2 separate regions of the Homo sapiens genome follow, and region 1 is linked to region 2. The links come from fine-mapping of genetic effects on gene expression. A gene starts in region 2. The other region holds a variant in brackets. All regions are shown on one strand. Distances are between the middles of the regions.

Region 1 (8,334 bases), 25 kb before region 2:
CACCAAGGCTGGACTGCAGTGGCGTGATCATGGCTCACTGCAACCTCTACCTCCCATGCTCAAAAAATCCTCCCACCTCAGCCTCCCAAGTAGCTGGGACTACAGGCACACACCACCACAACTGGCTAATTTCTGTATTTTTTCGGAAGAGAGGGCATTTCACCATGTACCCCAGGCTGTTCTCGAACTCCTGGGCTCAAGCAACCTGCCCGTCTCAGCCTCTCAAAGTGCTAGGATTACAGGCATGAGCCACTGCACCCAGCCTACTGAGCTACTTTAAAAACTACCACGTGAAAACAGTACTTTTAAAACAAAGTCATATCTTAAAAGACATACTTACCAGTTATAACCAAGAGTAGAGTCATAAAAGTTTCTGCACAATCTGGAACTTTCATTTCATCCACGTCAGTGATATCCTTATATTGCGATACCCAGGCAGCTTCTGAGGAAAGCATTGAGTCCATTTTTTGAAGAGCAACTGATAAGCAGACAAAACAATTATGTCAATTAAGTAGTTACAGTCGTTCCTAATTATTCAACTTGTAATTTTTTAGGAATGATGGCTTTTCTATAAAAAAGAAACAAACCTACAATATCCCACTGGTTGTACTAAATTTAACTTAATTAATGCTTTAAACAGGATACTTTACTCCCATCCCCAAATTCTGAAAATAGTTATGTTGACTAGATAAGCTACAGTAAAAAATATTCTATTGGCCAGGCACGGTGGCTCACACCAGTAATCCCAGCACTCCAGGAGGCCAAGGTGGGTGGATTGCTTGAGTCTAGGAGTTCACAACCAGCTTGGGCAAAACCCCAGGGAAACCCCATCTCTACAAAAAATACAAAAAGTAGCCAGGCATGGCTTGCATATACCTATACTCCCAGCTACTGGGGTGGCTGAGGCAGGAGGATCACCTGAGCCCCAGAGGTCGAGGCTGCAGTAAGCCATGATCGGCCCACTCCACTCTAGCCTCGGTGACAAAGTGAGACCCTATCTCAAAAATAAAAAAATAAAATATTCTGACACTTTGGGAGGCCAAGGCAGGTGGATTACTTGAAGTCAGGAGTTCCAGACCAGCCTGGCCAACATGTTGTAACCCTGTCACTCCTAAAAACAGAAAAATTAGCCAGGCGTGGTAGTGCGTGCCTGTAATCCTAACTACTCGGGAGGCTGAGACAGGAGAATCGCTTGAACGCAGGGGGTGGAGGTTGCAATGAGCTGAGATCAAACTACTGCACTTTAGCCTGGACAACAGAGCAAGAGTCTGTCCCAAAATAAATAAATAAAAATAAAATAAATTATATGATAAAATCTATAAAACAAACACCCCACTGGCTTGACTATTCCACTCTAGAAATATGTAGAGTGTAATTTCAGGAAAAATGGAAGTTTCATGTGAAGTAAAGAAAAGATTATCTCTGAAGGAAACAGAAAACCCTGAAAAGGAAATTTCAAATGGCTCTAGTTCCTATTTAGAACTGGAGAAGAAAAATATCAAAAATGTATACCCACAGAAACAGACATATCTCCCTACCATCTGGCCACATCAGCACTTACATTTTCTCTCCACCGTCAACCATCTCTGAAAACAGGTTTCCTCTGATAGAATATGCATACAACTAGCAAAAGTGCCAGGATAGCCATGAACACTGTGTAGCTCCCTTTCAAACAAGAGTACTTCATCCACCAAATGACAGAAGAGATTGTCATCATATAGCAGACAAGGAATATCAGTGGCTAACTTCTCAAGAACCAGCATCATAAGGCCCCGAGAAAATTCAAGCTAAAAAAATACACAAACATGAGGTATGTAAATAAAAAGTTATCCATGCACACATACAGTTCTAAAACAGAAACACTTATGACTGAGTCTCTTACCCTTGCGTTTACCAAAGAGCCTACTTTGTCTAATATTGGCTGAATCTTCTCATCCAGAAATTCAGTATGGTTTCCAATCCACATAAGTACTTGAGCCAAGTACCATTCTGGCTAAGGAAGGAGGAAAATAGTTTGAATTCTTAAGTCATTCCAATTAGAAAGTTACAATTACATGGTTCTATTTAATTGTATATGCACAACACTTATAAAAATTAGTTGAAAATTCCTGTATGTAAGAGCACAATTTCTACTCCAAATTTTAAACTCCTGCAAGGCTTAATAATCAAATGTTTGCTAATGTACTCCCAACAAATTTCAATAATATGACTTAAGTCAATAAACTCATAAATTTACAATGCCATATATATTTAAAACCTAGCACTTCAATAATATGTAAAATGATGAGTATTACAAAGAACTGATGGCCTATATTTTTTGAAATAGCATTTGAAAATAATTTTAATATTATTTTCTTATGGTTTTTATTTTCAAAAAGTAAATCAAGAAAAAAATTGCTGGCCAGGCGTGGCAGCTCATGCCTGTAATCCCAGCACTTTGGGAGGCCGAGGTGGGTGGATCAGCTGAGGTCAGAAGTTCAAGACCAGACTGGTCAACATGGTGAAACCCCGTCTCACCTAAATATACAAAAATTAGCTGGGCGTGGTGGTGGGCACCTGTAATCCCAGCTACTCAAGAGGCTGAGGCAGGAGAATCGCTTGAACGCGGGAGGCAGAGGTTGCAGTGAGCCGAGATCACACCATTGCGCTCCAGCCTGGGCAACAAGAGTGAAACTTCGTTCCAAAAAAAAAAAATTGCTAGTCTGCATTACAAAAACTACGCATGTCTTATACAGGTTTAAGAGCAGAAATACCAAGTACATGCCAGGCGCAGTGGCTCACTCCTGTAATCCCAGCACTTTGGGAGGCTAAGTCAGGTGGATCACCTGAGGTCAGGAGTTCCAGACCAGCCTGACCAATATGGTGAAACCCATCTCTACTAAAATTACAAAAATTAGTCCAGTGTGGTGACATGTGCCTGTAGTCCCAGCTACTTGGGAGGCTGAGGCAGGAGAATCGCTTGAACCTGGGAGGTGGAGGTTGCAGTGAGCAGAGATTGTGCCACTGCACTCCAGCCTGGGTGACAGAGCGAGACTCCAACTCACAAAAAAAAAAAAAGAAAAGAAATACCAAGTGCTTACTATTTGCTTTGCTTTGTTTTGCAATGATAACTCAGCAATATCTGATGCCCAAGAGCGGAAATACCATTTTTCCTACAGTATATGAACACAAGTCCTCAATTATATGTATGAACAGCAGTAACAAAACAGGAATGTAGCCCTTTAGAAAAAAAACAGAAATGTGAAGAGAGTCAGATTTTAACTTAAACCAGCAAAGGTATAGAAACTCTAACATTTGTTACCAATAAAAACCAAGGACAAGAGCTGGCAAAACACACCTTGCTTAACACATTAGTCTGCCGGTTCCCTCTGAAGTGATACCTGAACCTCTTCTGAAGAGGAGTCAGCATAACCTGGATGGGCAGGATGACAGAAGGGGAGGCAGGAAGAGAGTATTTTTCTGGGAGTTGCTTTGGCTCAGTAAGTAATTCATCTCTGACATAATCAAGTCAAGGAAAAAGAATCAAAAGCATACCTAATATACACACACATATGTATGTATACACACACAATAAATTTTTCCAACAAATGTATCAGATACTCAGTAGAGTTAATTATGATGCAAATAATATGTAACCTAATTTTATATTGAATAAACATACAGTTAATTCTTTATATTGAATATACATTCAGTTAAAATGCACAAAAAGCCAGGCATGATGATAGTGAATCATGCCTGTAATCCCAGCACTTTGGGAGGCTGAAGCAGGCTAATCACTTGGGCCACTTCACAGGAATTTGAGACGTGCCTAGGCAATACGGCAAAACCCTATCTCTACAAAAAACAACAAAAATTAGC[G/T]GGGCATGGTGGCACGTGCCTGTAGTCCCAGCTACACAGGAAGAAGAGGTGGGAGAATCAACTGAGCCTGGGTGGTCAAGGCTGCAGTGAGCCATGACTGCACCACTGCACTTCAGCCTGGGTGACAAAGTGAGACCATGTCTTTAAAAAAAGCACAAAAATGAGCCAGGTGCAGTGGCTCTCACCTGTAATCCCAGCACTTTGGGAAGCTGAGGCGGGTGGATCACCTGAGGTCAGGAGTTCGAGGCCAGCCTGACCAACATGGAAAAACCCCGTCTCTACTAAAAATACAAAATTAGCTGGGCATAGTGGTGCACGCCTGTAATCCCAGCTACTCGGGAGGCTGAGGCAGGAGAATCGCTTGAACCCGGGAGGTGGAGGCTGTGGTGAGCCGAGATCATGAGATCACGCCACTTCATTCCAGCCTGGGCAACAAGAGCGAAACTCCATCTCAAAAAAAAAAAAAAAAAAGCACAAAAATGGTATTAGAATTAATCTATAAATCTTTCCTAAAATAGTAACAAAAAAAATTCAAGTATCATTTGATTAAATTCACGCTATGACACTAAAGGTTTCCTCCCAATTGCCCATTTGTTCTGTTGCCCCAAGAGACCTTTTTGTGCTATGAACTTGGATCAGTCATGTATCCCGGAACTCTTCCTTACAGCCCTCACACCTACAAGCAATTCACTTTGCAAGAGTACAGTCCACCACTCAGTGGACATTTACAGACCAAGTCCAAACACAGGATTCTTATTTGGCTTTCTTGGCCACTTTGAAAAAGTTTTACTCTCTAGCCACAAACCCATTCTAGAAAAAAGAAATTTTAGTAAGTTTTCAGCTGCAACAAAGATACGAGGTTTGTAGTTTCAAAAGCTGACAAAACAGTGTCTCCAGGTAACTGTATATCTCCGGGGCACTGGCAGGTCGACTTAAGCCAACAGTTTGTGATTGAGGGGGTGCGATGAATGGCCAATGAAGCTGTGCTAAAATTTCCTCAAAATCACTGCAATGGAAAAGTAACACATACATTTCAGTACATCACCAAATGATCACCAAATACCCATCGGAAAGCAATTACCACAAAATATGGGTAAATTCCCTACCTTGTAAGCTTGTCCTTGAGAATTTTATGCCAGAATTTAACTGTGGCTCTCATGAAACCAAGAAGATGAGTACAAGATGATTCCTGAAGTTTAATGTCAAGTTCTGCCATAGACACTAGAGTGGAGGCTGCCTCCGGTACATTATTGGTCATCAGATATTGCTGAATGTTATCACTGTAAACAAAGTAAAGCAAATTTTTTTTTCTTTTGAGACAGAGTCTCACTCTGTTGCCCAGGTTGGAGTGCAGTGGCATGATTTGGCTCAATGCAAATTCTGTGTCCCAGGTTCAAGTGATTCTCCCGCCTCAGCCTCCACAGTAGCTGGGATTACAGGCATGCGCCCCCATGCCTGGCTAAATTTTTTGTATTTTTAGTAGAGACAGGGTTTCACCATGTTGGCCAAGCTGGTCTTGAACTCCTGACCTCAAGTGATCCGACCGCCTCGGCCTCCCAAAGTGCTGGGATTAGAGGCGTGAGTCACCGTGCCCAGCCGAAAGCAAATTTAAAGAACGGATTGCTCAGAATAATTTCAAATTCGGAAAAAGTGCTTCTTCTTCATGTTTTATATAAAGTTACATCCAAGGAAGAATGAAGCACCACCCTGAGGTAGCCTTTGTTTTTTAACAAAGCACCACCCTGAGGCCTTTTACCAAGGCCTCTCTGGGAGCCTAGAGTCCTCTACTTCTGCATTCTTCTAAGAGCAGCAGCCTGCAGCCTATGTTCAAGACCTCTCCCGGGACCTTTCCCTTCCTACTCCTCCTGACAGACCTGTTTTGTGTCATATTCCTTTGGGCACCACTCATTTCTGATAAATCTGCCTTTTACAAAGTCTTCAGTATCTTAATCCAAGGGAATAATGTGGTAGTATCTGGTAAAGTCAAGTATGATGGTCTTCAATTGTTACATACTTTGCCCAGCTGAACTTGATTTCCCACTTCAAAGAAATATAATTCCAGGCGGGGCTTGGTGGCTCAACCCTGTAATCCCAGCACTTTGGGAGGCCAACATGGGTGGATCTCCGGAGGTCAGGAGTTTGAGACCAGCCTGGCCAACTTGGTGAAACGCCCCCCGCCCCCCCTTCCCCATCCCCCATCTCTACTAAAAATATAAAAACTAGCCAGGCATGGTGGTGGGCACCTGTAATCCCAGCTACTCGGGAGGCTGAGGCAGGAGAACTGCTTGAACCCGGGAGGCGGAGGTTGCAGTGAGCCAAGATCATGCCACTGCACTCTAGCCTGGCAACAGAGTGAGACTCCGTCTCAAAGAAAAAGAGGCCAGGCGTGGTGGCCTCTTTGGGAGGCCAACATGGGTGGATCACCGGAGGTCAGGAGTTCGAGACCAGCCTGGCCAACTTGGTGAAACCCTTCCCGTCTCTACTAAAAATATAAAAACTAGCCAGGCGTGGTCATGGGCACCTGTAATCCCAGCTACTCAGGAGGCTGAGGCAGGAGAATTGCTTGAACCCAGAAGACAGAGGTTGCAGTGAGCTGACAGGGTGCCGCTGCACTCCAGCCTCAGCAACAGAGTAAGACTCCATCTCAAAAAAAAAAAAATATATATATATATATACAAATATTACAGAAGAATTTCAAATGTACAAACAGAATATGAGTACTGCCTTTTTTTTTTTTTTAAAAGAGTCTCACTCTGTCACCTAGGCTGCAGTGCAGTGGTACAATCACGGCTCATTGCAATCTTAACCTCTCGGGGCTCAAGCGATCCTCCTACCTCAGCCTCCCGAGTAGCTGGGACTATGGGTGCTCACCACCAAGCCTGGCTGATTTTTTTTTTTTTAAACAGAGATGGGGTTTTGCCATGTTGCCCAGACTGGTCACAGAATTCAGAGCTCAAGCGATCTGCCCACCTCAGCCTCTCAAAGTGCTAGGACTACGGCATGAGCCACCATGCCCGGCAGGAGTACTGCTTTTAAGGAAGGAATGAAATAGATTTCCTCACAACACTAAAGTATGAATGACATTTACAACATAGGAAAAGCTAGAGAAACAAGGTTCACTCAGAGTGATAGTGCTATACTATAGTATCCAAGAAACAGAGCTAATGTAAGGATGCTAATTCTAGCAAGAAGAAACTACTTGAAAAAAAGACAATGTACATCAGAATAAAAATAGGCCATTATAAAAAAATTTAGAGATGAAGAAAATCCCAGAAGCTCTAAAGGAAAGCTGGAAATGGAGAGATTATCATAAAAGACCTCAGGGAAATAACACATTATTAAAGACAGAAAAATAACTGTGCTCTACCTGCTTATGAATTTGATCCCTATTTCTAATATAAATCCCTCGGCATATTTCCCTTATAAACAATTCAGATATCTGAAGAGTTTATCAAGGCCAGGTGCAGTGGCTCACACCTGTAATCCCAGCACTTTGGGAGGCCAAGGCAGGCAGATGACTTGAGGTCAGGAGTTCAAGACCAGCCTAGCCAACATAGTGAAACCCTATCTCTACTAAAAATACAAAAATTAGCTGGGCGTGGTGGCATACACCTGTAGTCCTAGCTACTCGGGAGGCCAAGGCAGGAGAATCGCTTGAACCCGGGAGGTGGAGGTTGCAGTGAGCTGAGATTGTGCCACTGCACTCCAGCCTGGGCAACAGAGGAAGATTCCAACTCAAAAAAAAATAAAAAGAAAATTAAAATAAATAAAATAAATGTTAAAAAAAAGAAGAAAAAAGAAAAGTTTATCAATAACCATGGACCTAATTTAGTTAATCTATTACTTTGGCTACTACAAGAGTGAGGTTTTCAAATAACGTATTTTACTTAATAAAGTTATTAACATTGCCCCTTACTGATATTTCCTTTCTGAGGGACAAGGAGAAATGCAGTAAAATAAAGCAAGGTTTAAAATTCCTTCACTGCAAATAATTTATCTAAACAAGAATGAGATGTTCTAAACCACTTTATATGTAAAACTCCTCATACATGCAAAACAAAGTTTTTTTGTTTTTTTTGTTTTTTTTTTGAGACGGAGTTTCGCTCTTGCTGCCTAGGCTGCAGTGCAATGGCACAACCTCAGCTCACTGCAACCTCTGCCTCCCGAGTCCAAGCAATTCCCCTGCCTCAGCCTCCCAAGTAGCTGGGATTACAGGCACGCGCCACCATGCCTGGCTAATTTCTTTTTTTTTTTTGTATTTTTAGTAGAGACGGGGTTTCACCATGTTGGTCAGGCTGGTCTCAAACTCCTGACCTCGTGATCTGCCCGCCTCGGCCTCCCAAAGTGCTGGGATTACAGGTGTGAGCCACTGCACCTGGCCTAAAAACAAAGATTTCTATATTATATTGATATGTAAAATTCTTTAAAATTTTGGGAAATATATGCAAGAAAAAGAAATACATAAAACATATCCAT
Region 2 (8,334 bases):
AATTAGTTAAAAGAGGTGAAATGGGCCGGGAGCGGTGGCTCACACCTGTAATCCCAGCACTTTGGGAGGCCAAGGCGGGTGGATCACCTGAGGTCCGGAGTTCAAGACCAGCCTGGCCAACATAGCGAAAACCCATCTCTACTAAAAATACAAAAATTAGCCAGGCATGGTAGCATGTACCCGTAGTCCCAGCTAATCAGGAGGCTGAGGCAGGAGAATAGCTTGAACGTGGGAGGCGGAGGTTGCAGTGAGCCAAGATCATGCCATTGCACTCCAGCCTGGGCAGCAGAGCAAGTCTCTGTCTCAAGAAAAAAAAAAAAAGAGGTGAAATGACTGCTTTTGAGAAGATGGAAACAGGTGAGGGCTGAAGTGGGAATACAGTCCCTGCTGCTTCATTGCAAACCTTACAAAGTTTCTACAGAATTATTTGACTCTAAATTACAACATGTATAACTCTGATAACAATTAAAAATAAAATTAAAGGAGAAAAAATAATGCCCTAAACCCAAATTTTGGCTTCTGAAAAATCCACTTTCTGATAAAGGAAATAGGTAAATAAATAATTTAAGATTAAGTGTATAGTTTTGACAACAGAAATGTTGGCAATGACTGAGGGAACACAGAAAACAGTGAACTACTATCTGGGGCATGGAGAAAGGCATCCGAAGTGGACAGCATAGTAGTCAATAATAAGGATGAAAGAAGAGAGAAAGTGTGTGTGATAGGCACCTAGCAATCTGTAGTGTGAGGTGGAGTTAAAAGCAGGATACTGTACGTTATACATAATAGACGTGTTAGAATGGAATTTTGAAGTTGAAGACAACATTCAACTGTTACATGTTTATTAGAAGAAGTTGATACTAGGAAGAGGTTTTGAACACTTTTGTGTTATTTTAATTAAAAAACCAATAAAGAGTTGCCCATTTTGGAAAACAGAAAACTAAAAATCCATGTTTCACTTGTACCTTGACCTAGGCAGTTTTGGCTAAAATGCAAAACGAGTAAGGTTTGTCTAAGAAACCTTAGAAATGGCCAAAGAAATGTGAAAAATCTTTCCTCTAAATCTGTTTATGAGGAGTTGGGCTGCACTCTCAGAGTTTTTTTTTTTTTTTTTGGGACGGAGTCTCGCTGTTTCACCAGGCTGGAGTGCAGTGGTGAGATGTCAGCTCACTGCAACCTCCGTCTCCCAGGTTCAAGCGATTCTCCTGCCTCAGCCTCCCAAGTAGCTGGGACTATAGGTGAGTGCCACCACACCCAGCTAATTTTTGTATTTTTAGTAGAGATGGGGTTTCACCATGTTGGCCAGGATGGTCTCGATCTCTTGGCCTTGTGATCCGCCCGCCTCAGCCTCCCAAAGTACTGGGATGACAGGTGTGAGCCACTGCACCCAGCCTCTCAGAGATTTTTTTTTTAAGCCTTTACTTTTTTAGAGCAGTTTTAGTTTACAGCAAAATTGAGAGGAAGGTATAGAGATTTCTCATATACCTCCTGACCCCACACGTGCATAGCCTCTCCCTCACCAAAGTGGTACATTTGTTATAATTGATGAACCTACATTGACACATTATCATCCAGAGTCCATAGTTTACATCACTGTTAGTTCTGTAGATCAGCAGTTCCCAATGTTTTTGGCACCAGGACTAGTTTCATGGAAGACATTTTTTCCTCAGACTAGGGGGTAGGAATGGGTTTCAGGATGAACTGTTACACCTCAGATCATCAGGCATTAGATTCTCATAAGGTGCATGCAACCTAGATCCCTCACATGTGCAGTTCACAGTAGGGTTCTCGCTCCTATCAGAATCTAATCCCACCACTGATCTGACAGGAGGCAGAGCTCAGGCGGGAATGCTGCAGTGCAGCCTGGTTCCCAAAAGGCCACACTGACTGGTACCAGTCCGTGACTTGGGGGGGCTGGGGACCCCTGTTGTAGATTTTATGGGCTTGGACAAATGTATCATGACATACAGCCAGCATTACAGTATCATACAGAATAGTTTCACTTCCCTAAAAATTCTCTGTGCTCCACCTATTCATCCTTCCCTTTCTCCTAACTCCTGGCGACCACTAATTTTATTACTGTCTTATATAGTTTTGCCTTTTTTAGAATGTCATTTTGTCATTTAGTTGGATTCATATAGCTCGTGTCCTTTTCAGATTTTTTTTGTTTTTTTTTTTTGTTGTTGTTGTTGTTGTTGTTTTCTAGACAGTCTTACTCTGTCGCTCAGGCTGGAGTGCAATAGCATGATCCCGACGCACCCCAACCTCCACCTCCCAGGTTCAAGCAATTCTCCCGCCTCAGCCTCCCGCGTAGCTGGGATTACAGGTGTGTGCCACCATGCCTGGCTAATTTTTTGTATTTTTGGTAGAGATGGGGTTTCACGGTGTTGGCCAGGCTGGTCTCGAACTCCTGACCTCAAGTGATCCACCTGCCTCAGCCTCACAAAATGCTGTGATTACAGGCCTGAGTCACCATGCCTGGCCCAGATTGGTTTCTTTCACTTAGTAATATGCGTTTAAGGCTGGGCATGGTGGCTTACGCCTGTAATCCCAGCACTTCGGGAGGCCGAGGTGGGCAGATCACCTTATCTATTTAGATCTCAGAATAAATAAATACATAAAATAAAAAATATTTATTTATGTTTCCTCCATGTCTTTTCATGGCTTGCTAAGATCATTTCTTTTTGGCACCAAATAATATTCCATTGTTTGGATACAGCACAGTTTATTCAGCTACTGAAGGACATCTTGGTCTTTTTTTTTTTGAGACGGAGTCTCACTCTGTCCCCCAGGTTGGGGTGCAGTGGCATGATCTTGGCTCACCACAACCTCTGCCTCCTGGGTTCAAGCAATTTTCTGCCTCCGCCTCCTGAGTAGCTGGGATTACAGGCGCCCACCATCACGCCTGGCTAATTTTTGTATTTTTAGTAGAGATGGGGGTTTCACCATCTTGGCCAGGCTGGTCTTGAACTCCTGACATCGTGATCTGCCCACCTCGGGCTCCCAAAGTGCTGGAATTACAGGCGTGAGCTACCATACCCGGCCCGTCCTTAAGTTTTGGCAATTATGAATAATGCAGCTATAAACATACTTGTGCAGGTTTTTGTGTGAACATAGTTTTCAACTCCTTTAGGTAAATATCAAGGAGTGTAATTGCTGAATTGTATGGTAATAATATATTTCTTTTTTTTTTTTTGAGACAGAGTTTCCATCTTGTTGCCCAAGCTAGAGTGCAATGGTGCGATCTCAGCTCACTGCAACCTCCGCCTCCTGAGTTCAAGCGATTCTCCTGCCTCAGCCTCCCAAGTAGCTGGGATTACAGGCGCGTGCCACCACGTCTGGGTAATTTTTTGTATTTTTAGTAGAGACGGGGTTTCACCATGTTGGCCAGGCTGGTCTCAAACTCCTGACCTCATGATCCGCCCACCTCGGCCTCCCAAAGTGCTGGGATTACAGGCGTGAGCCACTGCGCCCGGCCGGTAATAGTATATTTCATTGTGTAAAAAACAAAACAAAAAAACAAATTGGGCAGGGCATGGTGGCTCATGCCTATAATCCCAGTACTTTGGGAGGCCTAGGCAGGCAAATCACTTGAGGTCAGGAGTTCAAGGCCAACAGGCAAAAACCCCGTCAAAAAAATTAGTCTGGCATGATGTCAAGCACTCGTAGGCCCAGCTACTCGGGAGGCTGATGCAGGAGAATCGCTTGAACCCTGCAACAGAGTGAGACTCTCTCTCAAACAAAATAAAACAAAACGGAAAAACTATTAGAGGCTGGGAGCGGTGGCTCACGCCTGTAATCTCAACACAGAGGCGGAGGCGGGCGGATCACGAAGTCAAGAGTTCGAGACCAGCCTGGCCAACATAGTGAAACCCCGTACTCTACTAAAAATACAAAAAATAAGCCGGGCATGGTGGCGTGCGCCAGTAATCCCAGCTACTCGGGAGGCTGAGGCAGGAGAATCGCTTGAACCCGGGTGGCGGAGGTTGCGGTGAGCAGCGATCGCGCCATTGCACTCCAGCCTGGGCGACAGAGCAAGACTCCGTCTCAAAAAACAAACAAACAAACAAAAAGCAAAAAAACTATTAGAGCCTGGGCAACATAGTGAAATCTTGTCTCTACCCCCCACCCCCAAAAAAATTAGCCTGGGTGCGGTGGGATGCACCTGTAGTCCCAGCTACTTGGGATACTGAAGTGGGAGGATTGCTTGAGCCTGGGAGGTCGAGGCTGCAGTGAACTGTGTTCACGCCACCGCACTCCAGCCTGTGCGACAGAGCGAGACTCTGTCAAAACCAAACCAAACCAAAACAAAAAAAACCTATGATCCGGTTTCTTGAAGCAGATCCTATGGCAAGCCATCAAGCCAGAGCGGTAAGAAGTAGGAAGATGGTGCTTTTAGATCCACTACATTCCCAGGATCAAATGTAGAACAATATTTAGTCCCTAAAGTGATTCTCTTTCCATTATTGTCAACTGCGTGGTCGGTGCAACGTGAAAGGGCCACAACTATGTGAAGGAAACACTTAGAATATAACACCAAAGGAGGCAATCGCTGCCTTAGACTTCCTAAAGATCTAAAGAACTCTTAGATGCTTGGTGAAATCGCTCTCTGCCGCTGGTGCGACTCAGGCGCGGTCGCGAGGAAGGTCCAGGGTGAACGCGCGTAGGCTGGGAGTCCGCGTTGGGGCGCTCCCTGGCTTGCAGGCCGCTCCGAGTGGGTGGGCCGGGGGCGGGGCCGGCGGCAGGGAGCGGACTCCGCCCCCGGGGCGGGTCCAGTCGGGCCGCGGCGCGTCGCTGCGCCGCACGTGTGCGAGCCCGGCCGCCGGTGAGTCGGCTGGAGCGCATCTGGTCCTCCGCGCGGAAAGCGCTGCTTTTGCCTGGCCGCCCTAGCCGCTGGCTCATCCAAGTGGCCTTCGCCGCTCTCTTGCGTCCCAACCAGAGCGCTGGCCACCTCGCCGCCCAGCTCACGCCGCGCCCGCGCTCCCAGGCTCCGGGTAAGTGCGCGGCCTCCCCGCGGCCGCCGGGGCTCCTCGGCCTGGCCCTGGCCCCAGCCCCAGCCCCAGGGCCCCGCCCCAAGAGGCAGTGCGGACTGGGAAGGCGGACTGGGAAGGCGGCCCCGCAGTGGTCAGAGCCCGCGGCGCCTCCATTATGGATCGTGCCAGCGGGAGCACGGTTGGAACCCAGTGGGTCCTGCGCTTCGGCGGTGCAGGCGCCGCTCTCCGCTCCCCGCTCCCCGCTCCGCTCTGCCCGGCCAGTCGTCCGGAGGCGCCGCGCCCGAGCGCTCCCCTCCTCCCCGCGCGGCGCTGTCCCCCGGGGGCCCCCTTCCCACTCCTCCCTTTCTTTGCCCCGGACGCTCCCTAAACTCTTGTCCCTCCGTCAGAGGAACACTGGCCCTGAAGCCCTTCACGGTGCCACTGCTTCGCCGCGCCTGCCTTCTGTGGGTCCAGCCCACGTGTTCCACCCCTGTGTCCTGCGTCGCCGCTCACTGGGAGCCTACTAGGCGCCACGCGGGCTCTGGGGACTGCTTGCTTTGTATGCATTTCCCAGAGTAGGAGTGGACGGGCTGCAGACTCAGAGTGCTTTCTCCAGCCCTCAAGCTGGGTGAATGCTTAACGAGTGGATGGAGGTGCTGCTGTGCAAGCTGAAATTCGAGTCCTCCTCGTCAGCCCTGCGCAGAGGTGTTTAGAAGCACACCTTCGTTGCCTGCCGAGTAGGGTTGGCAAAGAGTTTAGTTTTTAAAATATTTGGTCCCGTCAGACTACTTTTTTTTTCCATTCCAAAAATAAAGGGTTACTAAGGTTCCCTCCCCCCCATCCCCAAGCCTCTAATCATCTATGAAATGACTATGCCCCATTGGCCTGGGGGAGCCTCGACTATTGAGGGATCTGTCGAAAATCAGACTGTACAACACTATTGAAAAGGGGTTGGTTAGGCAATTGTTAGGTTCAAACATTAGGAAAGTAGCCAACAGTACGTACTTAACAACTCCTTGTGAACATGTTTTTGGTTTTTTTATTTTTATTTTTTTAATTTTTTTGAGACAGAATTTTGCTCTTGTTGCCCAGGCTGGAGTGCAGTTGCGTGATCATCGCTCACTGCAGCCTTGAACTCCTGGGCTCAAGCAATCCTCTCACCTCAGCCTCCCAAGTAGCTGGGACTATAGGCATGTGCCACCACACAGGGTCTCGCTGTGTTGCCCAGCCTGGCCTCAAACTCCTGACCTTAAGCAATCCTCCTGCTTTGACCTCCCAAAGTGCTGGAATTACAGGCTTGAGCAACCACACTCGGCCTTGAACATATCTTTGTTTTTTGATTTATTTTTTTTAGACGGAGTCTCACTCCATCACCCAGGCTGGAGTGCAATGGCACGATCTTGGCTCACTGCAACCTCAGCCTCCTGGGTTCAAGCGATTCTCCTGCCTCAGCCTCCGGAGTAGCTGGGATTACATGTGCACGCCACCATGCCCAGCTAATTTTTGTATTTTTATTTATTTATTTATTTATTTATTTATTTATTTATTTATTTTGAGACAGTCTCGCTCTGTCGCCCACATGTATTGCAGAGGCAGCACCTCCATCCACTCGTTAAGCATTCACCCAGCTTGAGGGCTGGAGATGTATTGCAGTGGCGCGATCTCGGCTCACTGCAGGCTCCGCCTCCCGGGTTCACGCCATTCTCCTGCCTCAGCCTCCCGAGTAGCTGGGACTACAGGCGCCCGCCACCACGCCCGGCTAATTTTTTATATTTTTAGTAGAGGCGGGGTTTCACTGTGTTAGCCAGGATGGTCTCGATTTCCTGACCTCATGATCTGCCCGCCTCTGCCTCCCAAAGTGCTGGGATTACAGGCGTGAGCCACCGCGCCCCGCCTAATTTTTGTATTTTTAGTAGAGACGGGGTTTCACCATGTTGGCCAGGCTGGTCTTGAACTTCAGACTTCAGGTGATCCACCCGCCTCAGCCTTCCGAAGTGCTGGGATTACAGGCGTGTGCCATCACACCCGGCCTTGAACGTGTCTTTTGATAGAGGCAGGGGCATGCATGTACTGTATTAATGAAGCAGCGTTTTTCCTTACCTAGGAGAGAGAGAGAACAATCCAGCTGGTCATACTGTCGACTAAGTTTGCTCCGGTTTCAGGTCCTTTACACGTGCTGTTCGGGCTGCCTGGAGCTCTCCTCACACACATCTTTTCCTGTCTGGTTCTTCCTTGTCTTTGCTCAGAAGTCTCCTCCTTAGACGAGGCATCACTGAAGAACACCCCTCTTACTCTCAGCCCCTTACCCTGTTTTAATTCTTTGGAGCTCGCATGTCCTGAGATTTATTTTGTTCTCAGATATATTCTCAAATACATTGTAAGCTACATGAGGACAGGAAATGGTATTACCCTTTTCTTCCAGTACCTACAACAATGCCAGACACATAGGACACTTGCTCAGTAAATATTTGCAGAATGAATGACCCTCATAGACTTAATGATTTTGCATATTAGAATGCAGTGTGTCTGCCGGGCCTGGTGACATCATGCCTGTAATCCCAGCACTCTGGGAGGCCGAGGCAGGCAGCTCGTTTGAGGTCAGGTCAGTAGTTTGAGACCATCCTGGCCAACATGGCGAAACCCCCTCTCTACTAAAAATACAAAAATTAGCTGGATGTGGTAATTTTAGCCCATGCCTGTAATCCCAGCTACTCGGGAGGCTGAGGTAGGAGAATCGCCGGAACGCTGGAAGTGGAGATTGCGGTGAGCCGAGACTGCACCACTGCACTCCAGCCTGGGCAACAGAGGAAAACTCCATCTCCAAAAAAAAAAAAATTAGTGTGTTCTCTGTGCTCTGGCCCTAAAGAAAATGCTCACTATTGTGAGAGCTATAGAGATTACTGATAATTTGCAGGGGATGGAGGAAAGATGTATTTACAAAGTGAAAGTTGTGGATAGTTTTGAAATATAATATGATAGAATTAAGACTAATGGCTGTTTTTGTAGGCTGGGCGCGGTGGCTCAGGCCTGTAATCCCAGCCCTTTGGGAGACCGAGGCGGGCGAATCATGAGGTCAGGAGTTCGAGACAATCTTGGATAACACGGTGAAAGCCCATCTCTATTAAAAATACAAAAAATTAGCCTGGTGTTGTGGCGGGCGCCTGTAATCCCAGCTACTCAGGAGGCTGAGGCAGGAGAATCTCGTGTACCCGGGAGGCAGAGGTTGCAGTGAGCCGAGATTGCGCCACTGCACTCCAGCCTGGGCAATAGAGTGAGACTCCGTCTCAAAAAATATACAAAATAAAATAAAAAATAATTCAAAAAAAGACTAATGGCTGTTTTTCTGATGTTTATTTTGGAG

Evidence for each region. PIP is the estimated chance that this variant, and not a neighbour inherited with it, causes the effect.
Region 1: its variant is the best candidate, but not a certain one, in a credible set for the expression of PUS7 in whole blood (INTERVAL, PIP 0.74).

What each region holds. Positions count from the first base shown.
Region 1 is chr7:105,543,714-105,552,047 of GRCh38, reverse strand. It overlaps RINT1 (RAD50 interactor 1), which reads right to left. Exons shown (of 15, transcript NM_021930.6): 5 at 4,965-5,138; 6 at 4,715-4,864; 7 at 3,338-3,494; 8 at 1,883-1,993; 9 at 1,562-1,787; 10 at 341-478. Among named protein-coding and RNA genes, the nearest start is that of RINT1, 16 kb to the right of the region's middle. The variant G/T (reference allele first, on the strand shown) is at 3,859.
Region 2 is chr7:105,518,712-105,527,045 of GRCh38, reverse strand. It overlaps PUS7 (pseudouridine synthase 7), which reads left to right and starts at 4,775. Exons shown (of 16, transcript NM_019042.5): 1 at 4,775-4,994. RefSeq lists enhancers at 3,510-4,010, 5,294-5,948, 6,263-6,880 and silencers at 4,647-5,396, 5,606-5,751.